4 linked regions of the Homo sapiens genome follow. The protein of the gene in region 1 purifies or fractionates together with the protein of each later gene. This does not show direct contact. Each region holds a gene or a part of one and is shown in the gene's direction. Other genes may lie near its edges.

Region 1 (5,028 bases):
CTGTAATCCCAGCACTTTGGGAGGCCAAGACAGGAGGGTTGCTTGAGTTTGGAAGTTGAAGTCCAGCCTGGGCAACATAGTGAGACATCATCTCTACAAAAAATAAAATTAGCCAGGCATGGTGGTGCATGCCTGTAGTCCCAGCTACTTGGGAGGCTGAGGCTGGAGGATCACTTGAATGTGGGAGGTGTAGGTTATAGTGAGCCATTATTGTGCCACTGTACTCTAGCCTGGGTGCCAGAGTGAGACCCCGTCTCCAAAAATGTAAAAACTTACGAAGTTAAATAGCTCCCAGACATATCTTTTCATCTTTAAATGTTTCAGTGTGCAATTTTTAAAAGTACATTTTAAGCCAGGCGCGGTGGCTCACGCCTATAATCCCAGCACTTTGGGAGGCTGAGGCTGGCGGATTACTTGAGGTCAGGAGTTTGAGAGCAGCCTGGCCAACATACAGTGAAACCCTGTCTTTACTAAAAAACACAAAAATTAGCTGGACATGGTGGTGCACACCTGTAGTCCCAGCTACTTGGGAAGCAGAGGCAGGAGAATCGCTCGAACCTGGGAGGCAGAGGTTGCAGTGAGCCAACATTGCGCCACTGCACTCCAGCCTGGGTGACAGAGTGAAACTCTGTCTCTAAAAAAAAAAATAAACAAAAGTACATTTTAGGTTATACACCATTGTTAATGCAAACAATTATCTATAGACTTTTTTTTATAAATTAAAAAAATTATTTTATTTATTTGTTTGAGTGACACTGTCACCCAGGCTGGAGTGCAGTGGTGCAATCTCGGCTCACTGCCACCTCCATCTCCCGATTTCAAGTGATTCTCGTGCCTCAGCTTCCGAGTAGCTGAGATTGCAGGCACGCACCACCACACCCAACTAATTTTTGTATTTTTAGTAGAGACGAGGTTTCACTATGTTGGCCAGGCTGGTCTCAAAAACTCCTGACTCCTGAGGCGGATGGATCACTTGAGGTCGGGAGTTCTAGACCAACCTGGCCAACATGGTGAAACCCTGCCTCTACTAAAAATACAAAAAATTACCCGGGCGTGGTGGCACGCACTTGTAGTCCCAGCTACTTGGGAGGCTAAGGCAGGAGAGAATCGCTTGCACCTGGGAGGCAGAGATTGCAGTGAGCCAAGATCGTGCCGCTGCACTCCAGCCTGGGTGACAGAGCCAGACTCTGTCTCAAAAAAAAAAAAAAAAAAAGATTTTTTTCTTAACAGTGGGAAGTGAAAATTGGCTAAGAAGTCTACAGCATACAGTAAAAGAGATTATATTCTCTACATAATGCATGCTCCCTTGCCCTTATACATTGGAGAAATCATGGATTTTGGAACTTCCTGGCCACTAATGATGGTTAAGCTACTGGCTTGTTTAATGTTTTGTCAGTTTCTCACCAAGTTAGTAGATGATTGAATGCCCTACTAAAATTTTATTTGTTTTCTAGAATCCAAAATGATTGAGAAGCATGGAGGATACAAATTCAGTGCTCCAGTTGTGCCAAGTTCTTTCAATTTTGGAGGCCCAGCACCAGGGATGAATTGAGTTATCTCTTTCTTTCCTGCTGTGTGCTTGTAGTGAAGAGCTTGTGTTCCTCCTAGTAGTGGTTCCAGAACTGGTTCATGTTATCTATTCTAAACTAATAATCAATAGATGGACAAAAGAAACAACAACCCCAGGAGATGGGACCTGATCATGCAACCTGGCACTGGAAAAGAAATCAGCGGGATTTTGGGGGTGGGGGGGGATGGGAGGTACCTTAGAGGGAGTATTTTCTTTATTTTTTGAAGAAAGTAAGATCCTGACTCTGAAGCTTCAAAGTGACACTGTGGAAATCTGAAACGAGGGGATGTCATGAAGGCAGCTTTTCTTTTTCTGAGGAAAAAATAGGCATGGGCTACAGGACTATTTAAAATGTCTCATTTACAGTATAAAACTCAAAGGTAGATGTAATTTTTACACCTATGAGTATTTGTCCAATTTCTGTCTCTTCCTCACCATTGGGTATCTATTCTTTATATGTAAATAAGATAAGGTCATCTGATAGCCTTATTCAGTCTTCATCATTTTCATCATTGTTCCTATGTAGATTATTGGACATTTATTGTAGCACTACATAACTGATTATAAAAATCTGTAAATGAATTAGCACTTTCATATTGAAACAAGCCTGCTAGCCTATGTATAAAATAGCAAAATGTTTGCTGTTTATAAAAAGATGTAATGGGGTGGGGGGCAGGGGTAATTTCAAGTTATTAATTTAAAAATGAACTAGCAATTTTGTACCTGGTGACTTTGTGGTGCACTCACCTCTGATAGTGACTTGAATTCGGTATGTAAAAAGGGGTTAGTGGTATTTCATTGCTGCTAAAAATGACAACTCCCTCTGTGTCCTGTTTTTCTTAAAGCTGTCAGTGTACAAGTGGGTATTTGAATACCAGACCTTACTGTAAAAAATAAAAAAGGTGGTATCTAGAGCATGTAAATTGGATATAAAGTTCTGCTCTTAAAGAGTTGATCTAAGAGTATGGCTAAACATCTATATATGCAATCTATTAAAAGAACTTAATTCGGCTATTATGTCTTGATTTGATTGCAGTTTTTTCCTAATTATAACAAATTTTTCCTCATTGGCCTGTTTTTAATCCTGTGCCTAGAAGGAGTACAAAATGCACACTTTACAAAATTGATATTTAACACTTACCCACTCCCCTTTCCCCATCTCTTCTACCGCTCTTGTTGATCGTGGTATCTGATCTTGACTAGATAGGCTGAAGGCACATGGTTCCCTCCAAAAACCACTATTGATACCACTACAAAAACAAGCCAGCAAAAAGATACTGTAGAGAGGTTGGCTTGCTTCCCTCTCTTCCTAACTGCATGTTGAAAAATAAGCCGTTATTGATCTTAAACATCGGTCAGATGAGTCATACATTGGGTTATTTTTTATATACATGTATACACAAAATATTTCAAATTGAAAGCAACATCTTAATGGATTCAAAACTATTACAAGCTGTTGTCTAAAACAGGTGAGAAAAAAATTTATAACTGTAAAAACAAATGCACATATTGATATTTAAAATGCGTAATTAAGAAAACCCATTGTTGTTGTGTTTTTCTTGTATACCAATAATTAAGCCACTACTGTTGGCACTGTTTGGTTTTCTATTTTAACACTGAAGGAGTGAAAGTATTTCCTATATTTATGAATTTACTACTAAAATCTTGGCAAAAAAAGAAAAAAATTGTCTAACGTGTGTGGGTGAAAACTGTTAATCAAGTGTTTCTACTCCCCCCCGAAAATCCCCTGAAAGTTGGACACCAACTGTATACCCTAGGTTGCTTAAAGGGATTTCACTATTATATAAAGTCAATAAAAATGAAGTAGTTGTATATATGCAACATTGTGTACAGAGGGGAAATAATGAATAGTATTAAAGAAACATTCTCGTCTTCCTTTACCTTTAATCCCCTAATACCTAGTCTACTTTTTAAATTTTCAGACTTCACTGCTTTTTGAATTCATAATTCTAATTTTCACATTATTGTTAATGGAAAATCATATCTAATAAAGGTTTTAGTTATTCCCATGCACAGTATGAAAATTCTCATTTGCTGAGGTTTTGTTTCAAGAAAATGTATTGGCATGTCTTTGAGAACATGTTTTATTGTCTCCTGTGTCATATAATCCAAACTAATCTCCGTTTACAGACTTTAACTTGAAATTAGACCTTATAATTAAACTATTTAAATAGTGTTCAAATGATAGTTTCTAATGCATCAAATATATACCTCAGTTTTCATGATTTCCTTTAACATTATAATTTGGTATAGATCAAGAATCTTAACATGTATCAGTTTCTAGATGAGGCTGCAGGATTTTTGGAAAACTTTTTGAATGTATTTACAATATTCTCTTGTAATTAGCTACATAGGGACTTGTCTTTTTTTCTTTTTACATACAGCTTTTCCTACAGTTTTATTACCCTGTAATTTTTTTTTAGTTGTAGAAGTTAATTCTGATTTTGTGTGGATTTCAGTATTTGTCTTTGTTAATGGCACATATTAGCATAAATCACTTTTGTAAATGTAAGCTTTCTTTTTTTTTCTTGAAAAAGCCTTTCTATTTATCAGTATTAAATAAAGGAAGTTAATCTGTTTCTCTGCAGGTAATAAAATAGTGACACACTGTATTAAGATAGTGACTGCTATACTCAACTCTGGAAGAGACTAGAGTATAGAGCATGAGTGGCAAAACCACAGCCCTTGGGCCATATGCTGCTATTCAGTCCCAGATGTAGCCCCTGAAGCAAGCATAAAGAAAAATGAATTAAAAATTAAATTAATATGGAAAGTTAAAAAATGGATTACATTAGTATGACTAAACCATGTCTTTGGCAAAGATCTAACACAATGTCTTAAGTATAATAGGTAGTCTCTGTTTGTAAAATAAATGACTTAAATTTAAAACATCAGTTATAAAACTGTCAGTTCTGTTCTTTGTAATTTAAATTTTGGTAAAGATTTTCTGTGACCATTTATCAGTGCCTACTGAATTCTAGCTTTTATCCTTGGTGAGTTGGCCATTCTTGCAATAGCCACTTCACACTTTGGCTCATGGTAAACAAAGGTTACCTGGAAAGTGCTCTTGGAGATAGTACTGGCATCTCTCAATTGGGGGAGTTACCTAAATCAGACCTGCAAATTAGAGAAGGCTAGGATAATAGATTCTTTAACATAAACAGTTAACATTTTAAGTTGACCTGGCAATCCAAAAACTAGCATTAGCAGAAGCAGTATGCTTCTCCAAAGGTCTTCTAGACCCAGGCTGTAACTCAGCTAACTGAAGTGATCCAATACTGTTCTAGGCCCTTCATCCTTTGTATGTAGTATTACCACTGAATAGATTTGTATGTAGTATTATGACTGCATAAAACAAACAATGGGGACAGATATATCCCTTTCCTTTAAGGACCAATACAGTAGGCTGTACTCATTGTTGCCCCTTATATAAAGGG
Region 2 (7,684 bases), on another chromosome or scaffold:
ATTTATTTGACTGTTAACAGCGCTTTTAGAATTCGTTTTCTGATTTTTACCAGAAAACCCCCATGGGGGGAAAAATTCTTCAAACCTGTCCTTGTTAACACAAGGTGGTATGTAAGTAAAATAGGTAGATATATCTTTCGATGCTCAGCCCAGTGACTGTGATGTCATAGCTCTGGTCTGGAATATTCTTAGAATCTGAATCTGCAGTTGCTTTGTGCGCAGTGGCTCATGCCTGCAATCCCAGCATTTTAGGAGGCCAGGCGGGTGGATCATCTGAGGTTAGGAGTTGGAGACCAGCCTGGCCAACATGGTGAAACCCCATCTCTACTAAAAATACAAAAATTAGGCAGGCATGGTGGTGGGCACCCAGCTACTCGGGAGGCTGAGGCAGGAGAATCGCTTGAACCCGGGAGGCGGAGGTTGCAGTGAGCCCAAATCATGCCACTGCATTCCAGTCTGGGCGACAGAGCGAGATTCTTGTCTCAAAAATAAATAAATAAATAAAATTTGAGGAACAGGAAAAAAACAAAAAGCAACCAATCTATTACCTTCACAACAGGCTGTAAAGTCTGCAAAGCTAGCTTTATGCTAAAGTTTCAACAGGGACTTGGCCTCTGAAAAAGTGGGTGTTGAAAATTAGAGATGATACAGTTAGATTGTGAGGACTTCTTAACGCTTGCACTCCTAGTTCACAAACCACTAGGTTTCCTCATCTTTCTGGGACTCCCTAGGCAAGGACTCCCTGAGAATGGATAGCCTTGGGCAGAACTGTGAAGTCATCACAGACAGCCCCTCATTTACTCCTTTCTCTCCCCAGAAGTTCCTACCCTAGTCAGACCTCCGGGGTTCTTATCTTCCGATCCATCCGGAAAGAGGTTTAAAGTAGGAAATCTCAATTATCACTTTAAAAGTGCTATAGAAGAATGGCTGGGAGAGGTGGTGTGCCTATAGTCACAGCTGCTTTGGAGACTGAAGCAGGAGAACTGCTTGAGCCCAGGAGTTTGAGTCCATCCTGGGCAGTACAGCAAGACCCCATCTCTAAAAAAAAAATTCTAGGTGCTGTAGAAGAGAGTGAAGATTAAACCAAAGGAATGAATCTCTGAGTGGCAGAACTTCAGGGACTTTGATGAGTGTGGGAGGTCTCTGAGTGAGAGGGTCTTCCCAGTGCCTGGAAGCTCAGTCTTTGATGGCAGCCTTCTCTAATACACCCCATAAGAGCTGAGCTGCTCTTCTAAACTTGTCAAGGTGGGTCTTTCCACCAATGCAGTTTGTTTACCTTTAGGTAAATGGTACAAAAATCATCATGTAATTGTTGGCTGGGTGTGATGGCTCACGCCTGTAATGCCAGCACTTTGGGAGGCTGAGGCGGGCAGATCACCTGAGGTCAGGAGTTCAAGACCAGCCTGGCCAACATGGTGAAACCCCGTCTCTACTAAAAATACAAAAATTAGCCAGGCATGGTGATGCACATCGGTAATCCCAGCTACTTGGAAGGCTGCGGCATAAGAATCACTTGAACCCAGGAGGTGGAGGTTGCAGTGAGCCGAGATCCCGCCAGTGCACTCCAGCCTGGGTGACAGAGAGAGACTCCATCTCAAAACAAAACAAAACCTATTACATAACACACTTCAATGATCTGTGACTAGTATAGCTTAAATAAAGCCAAGTGAAATAAACTATAAAACTATACCCCTATGGAATCTTTTGATTCAGAGGCAGGTACATACAAAAATCAAAACTGGCCAGATATTAAATATTACATTGAGCAAAGGTAAAGTGCTTTAACTAATAGACATGTACAATAAAAATTTCAGATTCCTGAGTAGAAAACTTTCAACTTCAGTCTTCAGTAAGTGGTAGCCTTAATGCCTGCCCGTGTGTGTGTGTGTGCACTCTCTTGTGGAAAAAAATGTGTTTCAGGATTTTTCCTCCTTTGGTGTTCATGTGGTGAACAACAAAGTAAGATTGATTTTTTGTTGTTGTTTTTTGTTTGTTTGTTTTTGAGACAGAGTCTTGCTCTGTCACCCAGGCTGGAGTGCAACGGCACGATCTCTGCTCACTGCAGTCTCCGCCTCCCAGGCTCAAGGGATTCTCCCCCCTCAGCCTCCTGAGTAGCTGGGATTACAGGCACCCACCACCATGCCCAGCTAAATTTTGTATTTTTGTAGAGACGGTGTTTCATCATGTTGGCCAGGATGGCCTTGAACTCCTGACCTCACGTGATTCCCCTGCCTGTGCCTCCCAAAATGCTGGGATTACAGGTGTGAGCCACTACGCCCAGCCTTGATTTTTTTTTTTTTTTTTTTTTTTTTTTAGACAGGGACTTGCTCTGTCGGACAGGCTAGAGTGCAGTGGTGCAATCTTGGCTCGCTGCAGCCTCCGCCTCCTGGGTTCAAGGGGTTCTCCTGCCCTCAGCCTCTCGAATAGCTGGGATTGCAGGCACGTGCCACACGCCCGGCTAATTTTTGTATTTTTAGTAGGGACAGGGTTTCACCATGTTGGCCAGGCTGGTCTCGAACTCCTGACCTAGGCCTCCCAAAGTGCTGGGATTACAGGCATGAGCCACGACACCCGGCCTGATTGATTTTTGAAACACCTTGTTGCCCACGCTGGAGTGCAGTGTCATCATCACGGCTCACTACAGCCTCGACCACCTGTGCTTAAGTGACCCTCCCATCTCAGCCTCCCATGTAGGTGACCACAGGCGTGTGTCACCACGCCCAGCTAATTTTTTTTTTTTTTTTTGATATGGAGCCTGTCACCCAGGCTGGAGTGCAGTGGCGCGATCTCAGCTCACTGCAACCTCCCTCTCCTGGGTTCAAGTGATTCTCCTTCCTCAGCCTCCCGCGAGTAGCTGGGACTACAGGCTCGTGCAACCATGCTCAGCTAATTTTTTGTATTTTTAGTAGAGACGGGGTTTCACCGTGTTAGTCAGGACGGTCTTGATCTCCTGACCTCGTGATCCGCCCACCTCGGCCTCCCAAAATGCTGGGATTACAAGCTTGAGCCACCGCGCCCGGCCTAATATTTTTATCATATATAGAAAGGGGGTTTCTCCATGTTGCTCCAGGGTGGTCTTAAACCTCCTGGGCTAAAGAGATCCTCCTTTTGGGAACCTAGGCTTCCCAGAGTGCTGGGATTACAGGCATGAGCTACCGTACCCCACCAAGATTGTTTTGAGACAGGGTCTTGCTCTCTCTGGGTGGAGCGCAGTGGTGATCATAGCTCACTGTTGCCTCAAATCCTCGGCTTCAGCGATCCTCCTGCCTCAGCCTCCCGAGTAGCTGGGACTAAAGGCCTTTGCCACCATTCCTGGCTTATTTATTTATTTAGAGATGGGGTCTAATTATGTTGCCCTGGCTGGCCTCGAACTCCTGGCCCCAAGCCTCATGCAATCCTCCCACCTCGGCCTCCCAAAGTGCAGGGACTACAGGCGTAAACCACCATGCTCGGCCTAAGTTTTGTTGTTGTTGTTTTAAGCAAAAATCTGTGGAGGAGGAAACATCTCCCAGTTTGCTCTCATCTGAGTCTGCTTCTTACATGAGATGGGTCTAAAGACATTTTAGGGTAAAAGAAGAACGGTAGGATGTTTTAAATGTACGAATACATAAAAATGGAAGTCTTTGAAAAGGAAGACAACAGAAACGTTAACAACGAAGGGAGTGAGCAGAATGAAGAATGGCATAAAAGAGCAAAACCCCTTCTGAACAGCTGGAATATGACACCAGAGTACTAAAGACTGGTAATGCCATCAGGATATGAATGATAACGCACACCTCGTAAAGAATTTTTTATGCTGGCTGTGAAATTTGAACTGATAGAGTGGGGTGGCTGTGGCAGGGAAAGCTGGTGAGACAATTATGCTAATGGCAGGGCCAGACGACTGGGTGAGTGCTTAAATGGTGTCGTAAGTCTTTATAAACCTTGGCACATACGTTTGAGTACTGGTCATCTACTGTAAGCTTGGGACAATTCTACTGGTATTTCCTTACATTTATTACCCAGTCCCTCCCCTGTCCCCCAACACCTGAAACTTTAAAAACAATCTTTCCAAACTAGCTTTGAAGAGCTGTACTTTTCCTTCGTATGTACGTTGTTTAAGTACGCTGATAGCAACGCAATATGACAATTCAAAGGGAATCCCGTCTTCTAATCTCAGGGTTTTCATTCTGGGGAACTCTCCCTGCATGTGAGGATTAGGGAGCCCGGAAAGCCCGTTTCAACTTTTCAGTTCTGAGTCCCGAGTCACTACTCTGCCCTGTACCGTCTGGAGACTTAATGGGAGCGAGTGCGAGGCAGTGAATTCTCCGCTCTCTAGTTTTCCAATTCTACGGTCTTCAAAAAAAGGTTTGCTCTTGAGCTGCGCCTAAACTGAGAAGCGGGAAAGGCTAGCCCCGCTAAAGGCGGACGAGTGGCAGAAGCGGAAACCCAGTTAAGAGAAGGGACTGCCCTGGAGAGCACAGAAAGCGAAGGTTAGCGGGGGAAAGCGGCGCCCCTCCGAGGAAACCGACACCGCCCCGCCACGCCAAGGCAATGGGCGCCACCACGCAGCGCCGGGAACGCGCGCCGACGCCCCGCGCTCCGCCGGCGTCCGCCCGTCCCCGCGCGCCCCCTCGCACCCCACGCGCGGGAGGCGGGGCCGGCGGGGGCGCGCGCGGGGCCGCGGGTAGGGGGGCGGGGCGGCAGAGCTCGGCGGCTGGGACTGGAGGACAGCGGTGGCGGAGGCGACTAGCGGCGGCGGGAGCGGCGCCGAGAGGCCGTGCGGGACGCGGGCGCCAGGACCGGCCGAACGCAGAGGTAACGCAGGACCGAACAGGCGGCCGGGGAGTGGGCGCGGGCTCGCTGGGCCCCGAAGGCGAGTGGCGGAGGCCGCTCGCCCGGGGCGCCGACGCCGCTCCCAGAGAGGAGGGGGCGGGGCGCCCGGGTCCCCGGAGGTGGCGCCTTTTGTCTGCCTTACCCGGCCGCTCCGCCCCGCTCCCTTCCTCTCTCCTGCGACCTAGCCCCCTGCCCTTTTGGTGGACTCCTCCTCAGGGGCCCTCCGGCGCGCGCGCTCCCGCCCTTGTTTTGTTTGGATTTGGGGGAGGAGGGGGAGCTCTTCTCTGGCCGTGCGACCCTGCGTCCCAGCGCGCCTGCGTCGGCGTCCTCTGCCCGCCCCGATTGGCTGAGGGCTGCGCATGCTCCGAGGCCCGCCGCGGTCCGGCGTCCGCCCGCGCCCTCCCCTCACCCCACTCCCTCAGCGGTTTTCGGAGCCGGTTCGAAAGATGCCGGCGGCGGTGACTGGCTGCGGCGGGCCCGCCCCCCGGGTTCTCCGCCCCCGCCGCCGCCATTACGGAGCTCCCAGTGGTGAGTGTGCGGAGCGCCGAGGCTCGCGTTCCGCCGCTGCTTCCGTCGCCGGGGCGGGCGCCGCGGTGTCCCTGCCGAGCGTGAGCCCCGAACTGTCACCGCGCCGAGCCCCAGCCTCATCCGTCGGTGTCCGCGGTCCGAGCTTTCCCCGCCTCGCTGGCGGCCCGCGCTCTCCCCCGCCGTGCGCGTTCGCCGCTGTGGCCTGTAGCTACCTCGCCTCGCTGCTTTGTCTCCGCTGCTCTTGCCGTCCTTCCCGCGGCCTTCTGCGGGCGGGGCTGTCGGCTGTCGCTTTGCTGCTCCGCGACGGCGGCCTTGAGTCTCGCTCCCCCGGTGGGAAACGTAGAACTGGTTACTCGCCACCTTAGGCGGTGGGGTTTGAATGAGAGCGGTGCCTCGGTAGGTCGTCAGAAAGTTACAGTCGCCCATCTGAGCGTTTGTAAGAGATGGAGGCAGGAGTGGTGAGGTGAGAGCCCCAGATCTGAGGGTTGGTACTGCATTAACAGCTGTGACCGGGGACAGCCACTTAACCTTTTTGAGAAAGAGTTGTCTCCCGTACGGAGACCGGACCGGGTGAACTGTGCTGCCGCATCCGCGTGCACGTTCTCTCTGTTGTTTATTGTGCTTCCTGACTTTGCATTGCATTAAAAAGTGAGAATCCAATTCGAAATAACGTCTAAAAATCGCCTGGGGCTTTTTGAGCACGCTGTCTTGTCTTAGAGTGAAATTAGAGGTGACTAGTGTCATTTTTGAAAGGTGCTCTAATTTTGTTTAACCTGACATAGGCAAAAAACTTGTTAGCTTTTTGATTTTTCATTGCTCTTCTCAAAAGTTTAGTGTAATTTGTTTCAAAATAGAAGTAACATTTTAAAGTTTGCTGGGTTGGTTGGTTTTGGCTTTGTTTTTAAGCTTGCTTGGAAGATTGTAGGGCTGGAAGTTAGTGGAGAACGTATACTGAACTCTTCATTTCCGGATGAAAGTTTTAACTCCTTACCCAGTTAGATTGTGATTTTATTGAGATGAGACACTGTAGTGTCCTTAGTATCTATGCCCAAAACAGACACTGAGTATATGTTTGCTTATATAACTTACATTTGAAAATGAAAAACAAGTGGTGTCAGCAGTCAAATTACAGGCATGCTTTTTGTGACATGACTCGTTAAATCTGAGTGTAGTGAATGACTTAAGATTGGGAACAATGTGAGGTGTTCAGCGCATCACTAATGACATGTATTACATATATTTTATGGTAAAATGTGAAATTATAGTGCTTTCCCTAAAATGCATATTATCAAGGATATCAGTAAACTGAAATACGTTGTTAAACTCCTCACTTTTCTACAGCCTTCTCTTAATGTAGAGGAAATAAATTAAAACTGAAATTTGGGGCTTTTTATTTCTACAATACTTTTTTTTATTGCTTGCATTCAAATAATTTAAAGCCGTGCATGGTGGCTCACACCTGTAATCCTAACACTTTGGGAGGCCAAAGAGGAGGATCGCTTGAATCCAGGAGTTAGAGACCAGCTTGGGCAACCCTGTCTCTACAGAAAATACAAAAACTATCCGGCTGTGGTGGCGCATACCTGAAGTCCCAGCTACTCAGGTGGCTGAGGTGGGAGGAGATCGCTTGAGCCCAGGAGGTCGAGGCTACAGTGATCCCTGGTCATGCCACTGTACTCCAGACTGAGACTCTGTCTCAAAATAAACAACCGATTTAATTTAAGCATTTCCCTTGACAAAAAGCAAATATTTGTTATTGTTGTAACATTAAGTTTAAGCAAGCTGATGTTCATAAGAGGACCATGTAAACCACAAGTAAACTCAGACTGTTTATTTTTGGCACATATAAAAACCAAGATGAAAAACATGAATAGGCCGGGCACGGTGGCTCACGCCTGTAATCCCAGCCCTTTGGGAGGCTGAGGTGGGCGGATCACGAGGTCAGGAGATCGAGACCATCCTGGCTAACACGGTGAAACCCCGTCTCTACTGAAAATACAAAAAATTAGCTGGGTGTCGTGGCGGACGCCTGTAGTCCCAGCTACTCAGGAGGCTGAGGCAGGAGAATGGCGTGAACCGGGAGGGGAGGTTGCAGTGAGCCGAGATCGCGCCACCGCACTCCAGCCTGGGCGACAGAGCAAGACTCGGTCTCAAAAAAAAAAAAAAAAAAAAGGGAAAACACAAATAAGTTTTATTTGTTCATCCTTTAGTTTAACAAATATTAATTGAGCATCTATTCTGTGCCTGGTATGTTCTTAGGCATCAGGTATGCAGCAAATGAACCAGGTAGATAAGATCCCTGCCAGGAACAAGTGTGGCAGCCTCAAAATTTGATCATTCA
Region 3 (3,718 bases), on another chromosome or scaffold:
AATACAAAAAATTAGCCGGGCGTGGTGGCGGGCGCCTGTAGTCCCAGCTACTCGGGAGACTGAGGCAGGAACCTGGGAGGCAGAGCTTACAGTGAGCCGAGATCACGCCACTGCACTCCAGCCTGGGCGACAGAGTGAGACTCCGTCTCAAAAAAAAAAAAAAGTGGTATCGTGTATATAACTTTCTGAGTACATCTGCCTAGGTTCCAGTGTAATGGACTCCAAATCAGCAGATTTGGGGTGAGGCCCAAGCACCTGCATTGTTTCCAAGGCTCTGCAGGTGATTCAGAAGAAGACCCAGATTCAGAGCACTGCTCTTGCATGACTCATCTGCCTAAACACAGGGCATGTGGGTATCTCTCCAGATACCAATGCCCAGCAGCCCAGGGCACCTACATATCCAGATAGACATAAATTCCTCACTCCTAAGAAAACCAGGCTTACAAGGCGTCAAGGCCCTATAAAGAGGAAAAACCCAGGACGGTCCTTAGAGGCTTCCTTCAGCATGAAAACCAAGTTAAAGCCAGAGCTCATCCTGGGTTGCAGCAAGTCATGGTTGGGCCCAGATTCCCTGCTTGGACCCTCGTGACACAGGGTTACCTGTCAGTTGACTCATGGCTATACACGACTGCCACCAGGGCCTTTGCTCACCGTTATTAAGTTGGCCAGGCAAGGTGGCTCACGCCTGTAATCCCAGTACTCTGGGAGGCCAAGGCGGGTGGATCACGATGTCAGGAGTTGAAGACATGGAGAAACCCCATCTCTACTAAAAATACAAAATTAGCCGGGCGTGGTGGCACATACCTGTAATCCCAGCTACTCGGGAGGCTGAGGCAGCAGAATCACTTGAACCCGGGAGGCGGAGGTTGTGGCGAGCTGAAATTGCACCATTGCACTACAGCCTGGGCAACAAGAGCAAAACTCCGTCTCAAAAAAGAAAAAAGAAATCAAAGTCAAAGGTCAAGCTCAAAATCACATAGTTTAGTGAAAGGAATAGAACTAGAACCAGGATCTACTGAGTTAGCCATTATGCTCTACTTTCAGAGGATTAGACAAACCAAAAAAAAAAAAGAAAAAGCCCAAGATTATATTAACTTATCTTGGTTTTTTTTTTTTTTTTTTTTTTTTTTTGAGATGGAGTCTCGCTCTGATGCCCAGGCTAGAGTGTGGTGGTGCGATCTTGGCTCACTGCAACCTCTGCCTCCCAGGTTCAAGTGATACTGCTGCCTCAGCCTCCCGAGTAGCTGGGATTACAGGTTCCCGCCCCCGCGTGCAGCTAATTTTTGTATTTTTAGTAGAGACGGGGTTTTACCATCTTGGCCAAGCTGGTCTCAAACTGCTGATCTCAGGTGATCCACCCACCTTGGCCTCCCAAAGTGCTGGGATTACAGGCGTGAGCTACCACACCTGGTCAACTTTGATTTCTAGGTGTAGACATTTCTCATTTAAAACAAATTTTTTTTTTTTTCTTAGAGACAGGGTCTTACTTTTTGTCACCCAGACTGGAGTACAATGGCATGATCATAGCTTACTTTGGCCTTGAACTCCTGGGCACAAGGGATCCTCCCACCTTGGCCTCCCAAAATGCTGGGATTATAGGTGTGAGCCACTGCATCTGGCCTAAAGCAAACTGTAAAATAACAAGAGTTGGATTCAATCAGCAAGGTGTCTCCTGACTCCAATTCCATGCATGATTTTATTATTTATTTTTGTTTGTTTGTTTTGAGACAGTCTCATTCTGTCGCCCAGTCTGGAGTGCAGTGGCGTGATCTCGGCTCACTGCAACCTCCGCCTCCCGGGTTCAAGGGATTCTCCTGCCTCAGCCTCCCCAGTAGCTGTGATTATAGGCATGCACCACCACACCTGGCTACCTTTTTTGTATTTTTAGTAGAGACGGGGTTTCACCATTTTGGCCAGGCTGGTCTCGAACTCCTGACCTCAAGTGATCTGCCTGCCTTGGCCTCCTAACGTGCTGGGATTTCAGGCATGAGCCATCGCGCCCCGGCCTCCATGCATGATTTTAGAGTGCTGAGTTAACAAAAGGAAAATACCAGTTTCTAACCCTTTAACACAACAATGACGAACAGGTGTTAGAAACACTAGGCAGAGCACAGTGCCCTCTAAGAGTCTGTTTTACACAAGTATGCTGGATGTCATTGCTTGGAAGTTTGGGTGTTAGTCCAACAATAGTTGCTTTAAAGTATCTGTTTTGGAGCCTCCCTAGAGCTTAATGTGTGACCTATCCCTCTCAGGGAAGAGCAACGGAAGAAACGCGAGCAAGAACGAAAGGAGAAGAAAGCAAAGGTTTTGGGAATGCGAAGGGGCCTCATTTTGGCTGAAGATTAATAATTTTTTAACATCTTGTAAATATTCCTGTATTCTCAACTTTTTTCCTTTTGTAAATTTTTTTTTTTTGCTGTCATCCCCACTTTAGTCACGAGATCTTTTTCTGCTAACTGTTCATAGTCTGTGTAGTGTCCATGGGTTCTTCATGTGCTATGATCTCTGAAAAGACGTTATCACCTTAAAGCTCAAATTCTTTGGGATGGTTTTTACTTAAGTCCATTAACAATTCAGGTTTCTAACGAGACCCATCCTAAAATTCTGTTTCTAGATTTTTAATGTCAAGTTCCCAAGTTCCCCCTGCTGGTTCTAATATTAACAGAACTGCAGTCTTCTGCTAGCCAATAGCATTTACCTGATGGCAGCTAGTTATGCAAGCTTCAGGAGAATTTGAACAATAACAAGAATAGGGTAAGCTGGGATAGAAAGGCCACCTCTTCACTCTCTATAGAATATAGTAACCTTTATGAAACGGGGCCATATAGTTTGGTTATGACATCAATATTTTACCTAGGTGAAATTGTTTAGGCTTATGTACCTTCGTTCAAATATCCTCATGTAATTGCCATCTGTCACTCACTATATTCACAAAAATAAAACTCTACAACTCATTCTAACATTGCTTACTTAAAAGCTACATAGCCCTATCGAAATGCGAGGATTAATGCTTTAATGCTTTTAGAGACAGGGTCTCACTGTGTTGCCCAGGCTGGTCTCAAACTCCACCAAATGTACTTCTTATTCATTTTATGGAAAAGACTAGGCTTTGCTTAGTATCATGTCCATGTTTCCTTCACCTCAGTGGAGCTTCTGAGTTTTATACTGCTCAAGATCGTCATAAATAAAATTTTTTCTCATTGTCATAGATTCATTCTTTGTAAACATAAGTCTTCCAAGATTTAGGTGAGCAGCTAGGCTTAACAAGAGTTTATACATACCCTTGGTATGCCCTTTCCTGACCACTGCTTCCATTCAAAAAAGAAACGGCAGTATGCTTCCTTTATATTCCCAGAGTACCTCTCAGGTTTTATTAAATGCTGTTTTGTATATACGAGGCTTTAGGACATGGCACACTTCCGGGTACTGGAAACATTCAGATTTTCCTATCAAGGGGAAGAGATCAGATCAATTTTAAAAATTCAGGGTCAAATACACATCTGATGGAAATGTAAAATGTCACAACCACTTTGGAAAACAGTTTGCTAGTTTCTTTGAAAAGTTAACAGTATGTCTACCGTGTAATCTAGCCATGCCATTAGGTAGTGAGACCCTATCTGAAAAAAGAAAAAACCACCAGGATCTTACATAGAGAAAATCCTAAGGATTTCACTAAAAAGCTCCTAGAACTAATAAATTCAGTAAGGTTGCAACGTAC
Region 4 (7,052 bases), on another chromosome or scaffold:
AGAGAGGTAAGGGTCGGAGGAAAGAATCCTGTGGGGAGACTTACGGTATTCAGGGGAAGGATGACATCAGTAGTAGTGTGACAGCAATAGACATCATGAGAAGGGGGTTGGAAGTGAGCTTTTTTTTTTAGATGAGACAGAGTCTCGCTTTTGTCGCCCAGGCCGGAGCGCAATGGTGCGATCTCGGCTCACTGCAACCTCTGACTCCTGGGTTCAAGCGATTCTCCTGCCTCAGCCTCCTAAGTAGCTGGGATTACAGCCACCCACCAGCACGCCCGACTAATTTTTGCATTTTTAGTAGAGGCGGGGTTTCATCATGTTGGCCAGGGTGGTCTCGCTCCTGACCTCAGGCAGTCTGCCCTCCTCGGCCTCCCAAAGTGCTGGGATTACAGGTGCGAGCCACCGCGCCTGGCCCTGGAAGTGAGCATTTTTACTGTAGTCAGCATAGGTGCTGGGCATGAGGACCAAGAATGAGTTCTGAATTTTGGGGCCTGAGGTGGAGAGAGAGCAGTTGCAGGTGGCAATTAGGAGCTTGGCTTTGGTTGTATCAAGTTTGAATGGTCAGGCTGGCACAGTGGCTGATGCCTGTAATCCCAGCACTTTGGAAAGCTGATGCAGAAGGATCGCTTGAGACCAGGAGTTCCAGACCAGCCTGGGCAATAAAGTGAGACCCTGTCTCTACAAAAAAATTTTAAAAGCCAGATGTGATGGTGCTTACCCATAGTCCCAACTACTTGGGAGGCTGAGGTGAGAGGATCACTTGAGCCCAGGAGGTTGAGGCTGCAGTGAGCCATTATGGCATCACTGCACTCCGTCCTGGGCAACAGAGCGGGACCCTGTCTCAAAAACAAAAAAGTTTGAACGGTCAATGCAGTAAGAGTCTGGAGCCCAGGGGAGAGGTCAGGGCTAGGGGTATTGGAAACCTCGTGGCTGGACTGGGTCTCCTAGTGAACAAACACAGAGGCAAGGAGATCCGAGGACTGAGTCTTGTGGCCTTCTAGCATTTAGAGGGTTACCGAGACCAGGAGCCTGAACACCCTCCCAAGGGCTGGTGGGAATTGCAGCCTCAACTCCCAGGCATCCTGGGGCTCTATCCTCCCACCTCAGCTCCCCCACCCACTCCCACCCCCTGTGGAGAGCTGTCCCAGTTACCATGCTGGTTTTTGCAGGTTGTGATTTTCTTCCCACAGAGGTTTCAAGGAGCTGTAGTCCCAGGCCTGGGAGATCTGAGGAAGCGCACTTCTGGTTCTCTGGGATATGGGGAGCGTGGGGTCAGTGCCTTGATCCTCCTCTCCCCTCGCTTCACATCACCCTTCCCCCACCGCTCTTCTGCAGGTGTCATGGCTGGGTGAAGAGCCTGTGGCTGGGGTGTGGTCAGAGAAGGGCCAGGTGGAGGTGTTTGCGCTGCGGCGGCTTCTGCAGGTGGTGGAGGAGCCCCAGGCCCTGGCAGCCTTCCTCCGGGATGAGCAGGCCCAAATGAAGCCCATCTTCTCCTTCGCTGGACACATGGGCGAGGGCTTTGCCCTTGACTGGTCCCCCCGGGTGACCGGTGAGTCCCTGGGGTGTTCAGGAGTCCCGGGAGGTCGGGGGAGCAGGGTCTGCAACAAGGGGCCGGGCGCTTAGACTCCAAGGAGGGGAGCGAGCTGCGGCCAGGTGGGGCGAGGTCATTTCCTGACTCCCTTCCCCAGGTCGCCTGCTGACCGGTGACTGTCAAAAGAACATCCACCTCTGGACACCTACGGACGGCGGCTCCTGGCACGTGGACCAGCGGCCATTCGTGGGCCACACACGCTCTGTGGAGGACCTGCAGTGGTCACCGACTGAGAACACGGTGAGGGAGGGTGGGGTTCTGGTCGTTTAGTTCTGATGGATTCTAGGCCAGGGACCTAGAATCCTAGGTCTGAGGGAAAAGAGGGCTGGGAGCCTGACGGAGGTTTAGTTTCCAGGCCAAGTCATAGTAAGGGGAACAGTGAAAGAGAGAGTAGCCCACCGCTGGCGCTTGGGCTTCACTGCGGGCTGGGGGGCATTGGGACCACTCAGACTCCGCCTCCCCCAGGTGTTTGCCTCCTGCTCAGCTGACGCCTCCATCCGCATCTGGGACATCCGGGCAGCCCCCAGCAAGGCCTGCATGCTCACCACAGCCACCGCCCATGATGGGGACGTCAATGTCATCAGCTGGAGCCGCCGGGAGCCCTTCCTGCTCAGTGGCGGGGATGATGGGGCCCTCAAGATCTGGGACCTTCGGCAGTTCAAGGTATTTTCCCAGCCGGACACCTGGGGGCTAGAGAAGCTTGCTCCCAGCAGCCCCTGGGATTTGTAGGATTTTTCCTCCTTGAATAGTTTTACACAACCAGAGCTGGAGAGCCCTTAGAACTAGACTCCTGCCTCTTCAGGGTACAGAGGAGGAAACTGAGGCTCAGCAAGAGGAAGGGTGGCGGGTCTCCACTCTTGGGGTCACTCACTCTACCAGGGGAACAGCTGACAAGAGATGGAAGGGGCTGGGGCAGCAGAGACTAGGACTCTCATCTGCCTGTGGGCAGAAGTACAGGTGTCTGTACGGCCAGTGCTGAGAGCTTCAGAGAGTTGTAGATTTCTAGATGCAACTGAGAATCGGGGCCCAGCCTGCTCGTTGTAGGAGAAGACTGAGGCACAGAAAGGACAGGAGCCGCTGTGACATGACAGCCAAGCTAGAGGTTGACATTGTGGAGCTGGGAGGGTCCCTGTGCAGGAGAAGTTGCAGCGTCCGGCATCCCTCTGGACAAAGCCGCAGCTTTGTGTGGCTCTGCCTTCCCGGGCTGCCATGATGTCATCCTTTTTCTCCTCCAGTTTGATCGTTTCTATAGCGTCAGCCCTGGGGAGGAGGCTGGAGACGGATTCCAGCCTCCCAGGCCCACCAGGTCACACAGGGCCCAGCTTGTTGACCATTGGAACTTCAGAGCAGCCTCTCCTAATGAGAGAGACGCCAATTGAGCGGGGCCTTTGCTGTAGTGAAAGTGCTGTCATTCTTAGTCTTTCTTTGGGTCGGCTTCCGGGGATTGTGTTTCTGCCTCCTTTGAGGCCTTTGTAGAATCTGCTGGGAGAGCTCTGGGAGAGCCATGCCCTCCTTTTTTTCTTTTTTTTTTTTTTTTTCTTTTTTTTTGCGATGGAGTTTTGCTCTTGTTTCCCAGGCTGGAGTGCAGTGGCGCAATCTCGGCTCACTGCAACCTCCCGCTCCTGGGTTCAAGCGATTCTCCTGCCTCAGCCTCCTGAGTAACTGGGATTACAGGCATGTGACACCAGCCCGGCTAATTTTGTATTTTTAGTAGAGATGGGGTTTCACCATGTTGTTCAGGCTGGTCTCCAACTCCTGACCTCGGGTGATCCACCCGCCTTGGCCTCCCAAGGTGCTGAGATTACAGTCGTGAGCCACCGCACCCAGCCCATGCCCTCCTTTTACAAGGAAGAAAACAGGCAGGCAGAGGGAAGAGCAGGGGCGGGGGTTTTGCTACCTGAGCTGGGAGGGGCTTCTTTGCAGGTGAATCACAGTTCCCAGCAACCCCTGGGCTGGTCAGCCTTCTTAGCAGCCAGAATTACCCTGTGTCCCTTTCCTGGACTCTGGGCTTGTGAGGGCTTAAGGGGTGGGGCCCTGGCTGAACCCTGAGGCTGGAGAAGGGTTGGGGCTTCTGCCTGGGTCCTCCCCAGAGTCAGGCTGAGGCATTCAGAGCCCGTTCCTCCCATCCTCTCCCTCTAGTCTGGTTCCCCAGTGGCCACCTTCAAGCAGCACGTGGCCCCCGTGACCTCCGTCGAGTGGCACCCCCAGGACAGCGGGGTCTTTGCAGCCTCGGGTGCAGACCACCAGATCACACAGTGGGACCTGGCAGTGGAGCGGGACCCTGAGGCGGGCGACGTGGAGGCCGACCCCGGACTGGCCGACCTCCCGCAGCAGCTGCTGTTCGTGCACCAGGGCGAGACCGAGCTGAAGGAGCTGCACTGGCACCCGCAGTGCCCAGGGCTCCTGGTCAGCACGGCGCTGTCAGGCTTCACCATCTTCCGCACCATCAGCGTCTGAGGCGTCCCACTGGCTCTGATCTTGCTTCCTGCTTGGAAACTGAAGTCGAATTGGGCTCCCCTGGAAGGGGTTCATTCAGGTCTGTTGACTGAGACTGGCCGGCCTGTGGGCTGCCGTGATGGATTCTGTTTGACGTATTGTTCTCTAGAAGGCCTGGCTCTGATCCAGTGACCCCTCTCACCAAAGAACTCGGTTTAACCAGGGCTCTGTAAGACCACTCCCACCCAGAGACTTGTGTGGCCTGGTGTGGCCTGTGTGTCGGATTCCTTCCTGTCAGCTGTGACCCATTTGACCTGTGTCCCCAGAACCCAGTTTTTTGTTTGTTTGTTTGAGACGGAGTCTTGGTCTGTCGCCCAGGCTGGAGTGCAGTAGCACGATCTTGGCTCACTGCAACCTCCGCCTCCTGGGTTAAAGTGATTCTCTCAGCTCAGTCTCCCAGGTAGCTGGGATTACAGGCATGTGCCACCACACCCCGTTAATTTTTGTATTTTTAGTAGAGACGGGGTTTCACCATGTTGGCCAGGCTGGTCTCAAATTCTTGATCTCAAGTGATCTGTCCGCCCCGGCCTCCCAGAGTGCTGGGTTGGGATTACAGGCGTGAGCCACCGCGTCCGGCTCAGGACCCAGTTTTGGCTGCTGGTTCCCAGCAGGGGACTCGGGGGATATACAGTGGCTGCACCAAATTGGAGGTGTGGGTTCCTCCAACACAATTTGCTTCTGCCCGTTGTCTTCCTGCCAGCTGGGTTTGGCCAGGATTTCTCCGTGTGGGGGCTACATGCGACCCTCTCCCCTCCTCCCTGACTTTAGAGGCTGGTGCTGTGTCGGGAGGAAGGTCAGGGCTCCTGAGCAGCAATAAAGGACCAGGAAGAGGCCTGAGGTGTATTTGAGACTCTGGTCCTTTGGCCACAGCCCTATGAGGAAACGGGGTGTGGGGGGAGTTTGGGGGTGGGGAGGAATTTGGCACCAGCTGCCCCCAGGCCGCTAGGCTGGGGGAGGCCACTGGGAGTCCAGTGCAACCCAACCTTCCGCCCACTGGGTGCCGCCGCGTTCTGCCTTCTCTAAGTGTCCTTCCATCTGGAACTCACTCTGGCTTAGTGAAAGGGGCCTCATCCCTGACCCCCACCAGCTTATGAAGGCTTCATCTCAGGGAACTCTGGACCCCCCATTTCTCCCTCCGTCCATCTCCCCTTTATCACGTTTCTTTCTTTCTTCTCTGTGTCCCCCTCTTTCAGAGTCTCCCGTCCCCCACTGCCAGTCTCCCTGCCCCCTAGTCGCTGTCTCGCTCCTCCGCCGCTGTCTCCTGTCCAGCCTGCCTGGGCTGTGGCCCAGCCGCTCTGCCTGGCTGGCCTCCCTGGCTCCCCCTCTGCGGCTCTGAGCTAGCCCCACCCCCGGCCCCCCTCCATCCAGCCTCTGATCCATCTGTGGACTCCGAGGTCGGGTGCCCGTCACACGGCCCCTGGGACCAAGGACAGACTACAGCCCCTCAGCACCCACAGAGGCTTCCCCTCAGCCCTAGCCGAGGAGCCCCCAGCGGAGGGCATGGGGGTGGGCCGCCCCAACAGGTACGTGCCTCCATGCAAGGCACCGCTGAGCCATCCCCTCCTGCTCTGCTGCGTCGCCCCCATCCACCCCTGCCCCAGCATCCCTGTCCTCAGCTTGTCCCCTTCAAGAAGGCCTTGTCTTCCCATCAGTGACAGGCTCAGCGCCAGGAGAATCCACCCCCAGGTTCAGTGCCTCCAACTCTCACCCCATCCCCATTTTATGCATTTTCTCACTGGCTTCCATCCTTTCAGAGAAACCCTCTCAGTCTGTCTGTCTCTGTCTCTGTCTCTCTCCCCCATCTCTGTCTCTCCCATCTCTCTCTGCCTCTCTCTGTCTTCACAATTTCATCTCCCCATGTCGCCATTTCTTAAAACATTTCTTTTCTCCTTTTCGTTTTCCCAATTGCCCTGTCCGCCTCTATCTTCTCTGTCCCCCTCCATCTAGGTCTCTGTCCCCCCCTCTCTCTGGGTCTCTGTCCCCCTCTGTCTCTGAGTCTCTATCCTCTCAAGGTCTCTGTTCCCCTCTCTCTGGGTCTCTGTCCTCTCTCAAGGTCTCTGTCCCTTTCTCTCTGGATCAATGTCCCTTTCCTGCTGCCCTCTCTGGGTCTCTGTCCCCCTCTCTCTCAGGGTCCCTGTCCTGCTTGGTCCCTGTACTTTTTCTTGGGGCACCCTCTCAACACCCCTCCTCCTGCCTATCTCTGCATCTCTTTGTCTTTCTGTAGTCTCTGCTTTCCAACCTGCTGTCCAGCCCCCACCAGTAGGTGGGGAGTGGTGGGGAACACCCCTGGTTTCGGAAGAGTGAGAGTGTTGATTTGGGAGGGTGAGGGTGGGGCCTGGGGGCGGGGCTTCTTGGCCTCAGATTAGACAGTGACTTTGACACGAAGTTGAAGCACCTTAAGCCCTGTATCTCCTTTATATGGAAACATTAAGCTGCTCTCGCAGGTCAGGTGGAGGATCCCTTTCCCTCCCGCCCTGCTTTTGCTAGGGGAGGGGGGTGCCCTGAGCCTGAGTCGCAGCCAGCCTGGGAGCTGGGCCATGTTGGCCGCAGATGGCCCCCTGGTGAAGGTTCCCGTTGGCTTTGGGAAGTAGACAACGGGTCTGCCTCACGGGGCTGAGGTGGGACTGGAGGATTTCGAGGGCAGAACTCTGGGAAGGAAAGAAAGGCTTAGGACCCAACCAGCATTCCCCCTGGCACTGCGGGGGCCTGGCCAGCTCATGGCGTTCCCTGAGCCTGTTCCCCAACTGTGAAAGGGGGTGATGATCTTCACCTCCCGGCATCCTGAGCGGCCAAGGTGAGCAGTGGGGTCTGAGAGTCCAGTGGGGGCTGTGGGCATGTCGGGAGCTCATCACGAGGCCTCGTACATACCAGGTGTGTTTGAAACCAGAGTGCTCTTGAGAAGACTGTGGTTTGTCACTCGGGCCGTGGCTCCCAGGAGGCCTGGGTGGGAGGCTAGCTTTTGCCA

Evidence for each region.
Region 2: the proteins of IPO7 (region 1) and HP1BP3 purify together in Homo sapiens (affinity purification with mass spectrometry; 3 studies listed by BioGRID and IntAct, with this or other methods). This does not show direct contact.
Region 3: the proteins of IPO7 (region 1) and NUSAP1 purify together in Homo sapiens (affinity purification with mass spectrometry; 2 studies listed by BioGRID and IntAct, with this or other methods). This does not show direct contact.
Region 4: the proteins of IPO7 (region 1) and GRWD1 purify together in Homo sapiens (affinity purification with mass spectrometry; 2 studies listed by BioGRID and IntAct, with this or other methods). This does not show direct contact.

The regions. Positions count from the first base shown.
Region 1 is NC_000011.10:9,443,643-9,448,670, forward strand, and holds the end of IPO7 (importin-7), read left to right. Parts: intron 1-1,454; coding exon 1,455-1,552; 3' UTR 1,553-4,485; downstream 4,486-5,028. UniProt on the Homo sapiens protein: Functions in nuclear protein import, either by acting as autonomous nuclear transport receptor or as an adapter-like protein in association with the importin-beta subunit KPNB1.
Region 2 is NC_000001.11:20,784,308-20,791,991, reverse strand, and holds the start of HP1BP3 (heterochromatin protein 1-binding protein 3), read left to right. Parts: upstream 1-4,684; 5' UTR 4,685-4,797; intron 4,798-5,319; exon of another isoform or gene 5,320-5,806; intron 5,807-7,684. UniProt on the Homo sapiens protein: Component of heterochromatin that maintains heterochromatin integrity during G1/S progression and regulates the duration of G1 phase to critically influence cell proliferative capacity.
Region 3 is NC_000015.10:41,377,841-41,381,558, forward strand, and holds the end of NUSAP1 (nucleolar and spindle-associated protein 1), read left to right. Parts: intron 1-2,252; coding exon 2,253-2,346; 3' UTR 2,347-3,206; downstream 3,207-3,718. UniProt on the Homo sapiens protein: Microtubule-associated protein with the capacity to bundle and stabilize microtubules. May associate with chromosomes and promote the organization of mitotic spindle microtubules around them.
Region 4 is NC_000019.10:48,448,978-48,456,029, forward strand, and holds part of GRWD1 (glutamate-rich WD repeat-containing protein 1), read left to right. Parts: intron 1-1,335; coding exon 1,336-1,549; intron 1,550-1,688; coding exon 1,689-1,831; intron 1,832-2,056; coding exon 2,057-2,254; intron 2,255-3,730; coding exon 3,731-4,048; 3' UTR 4,049-7,052. UniProt on the Homo sapiens protein: Histone binding-protein that regulates chromatin dynamics and minichromosome maintenance (MCM) loading at replication origins, possibly by promoting chromatin openness.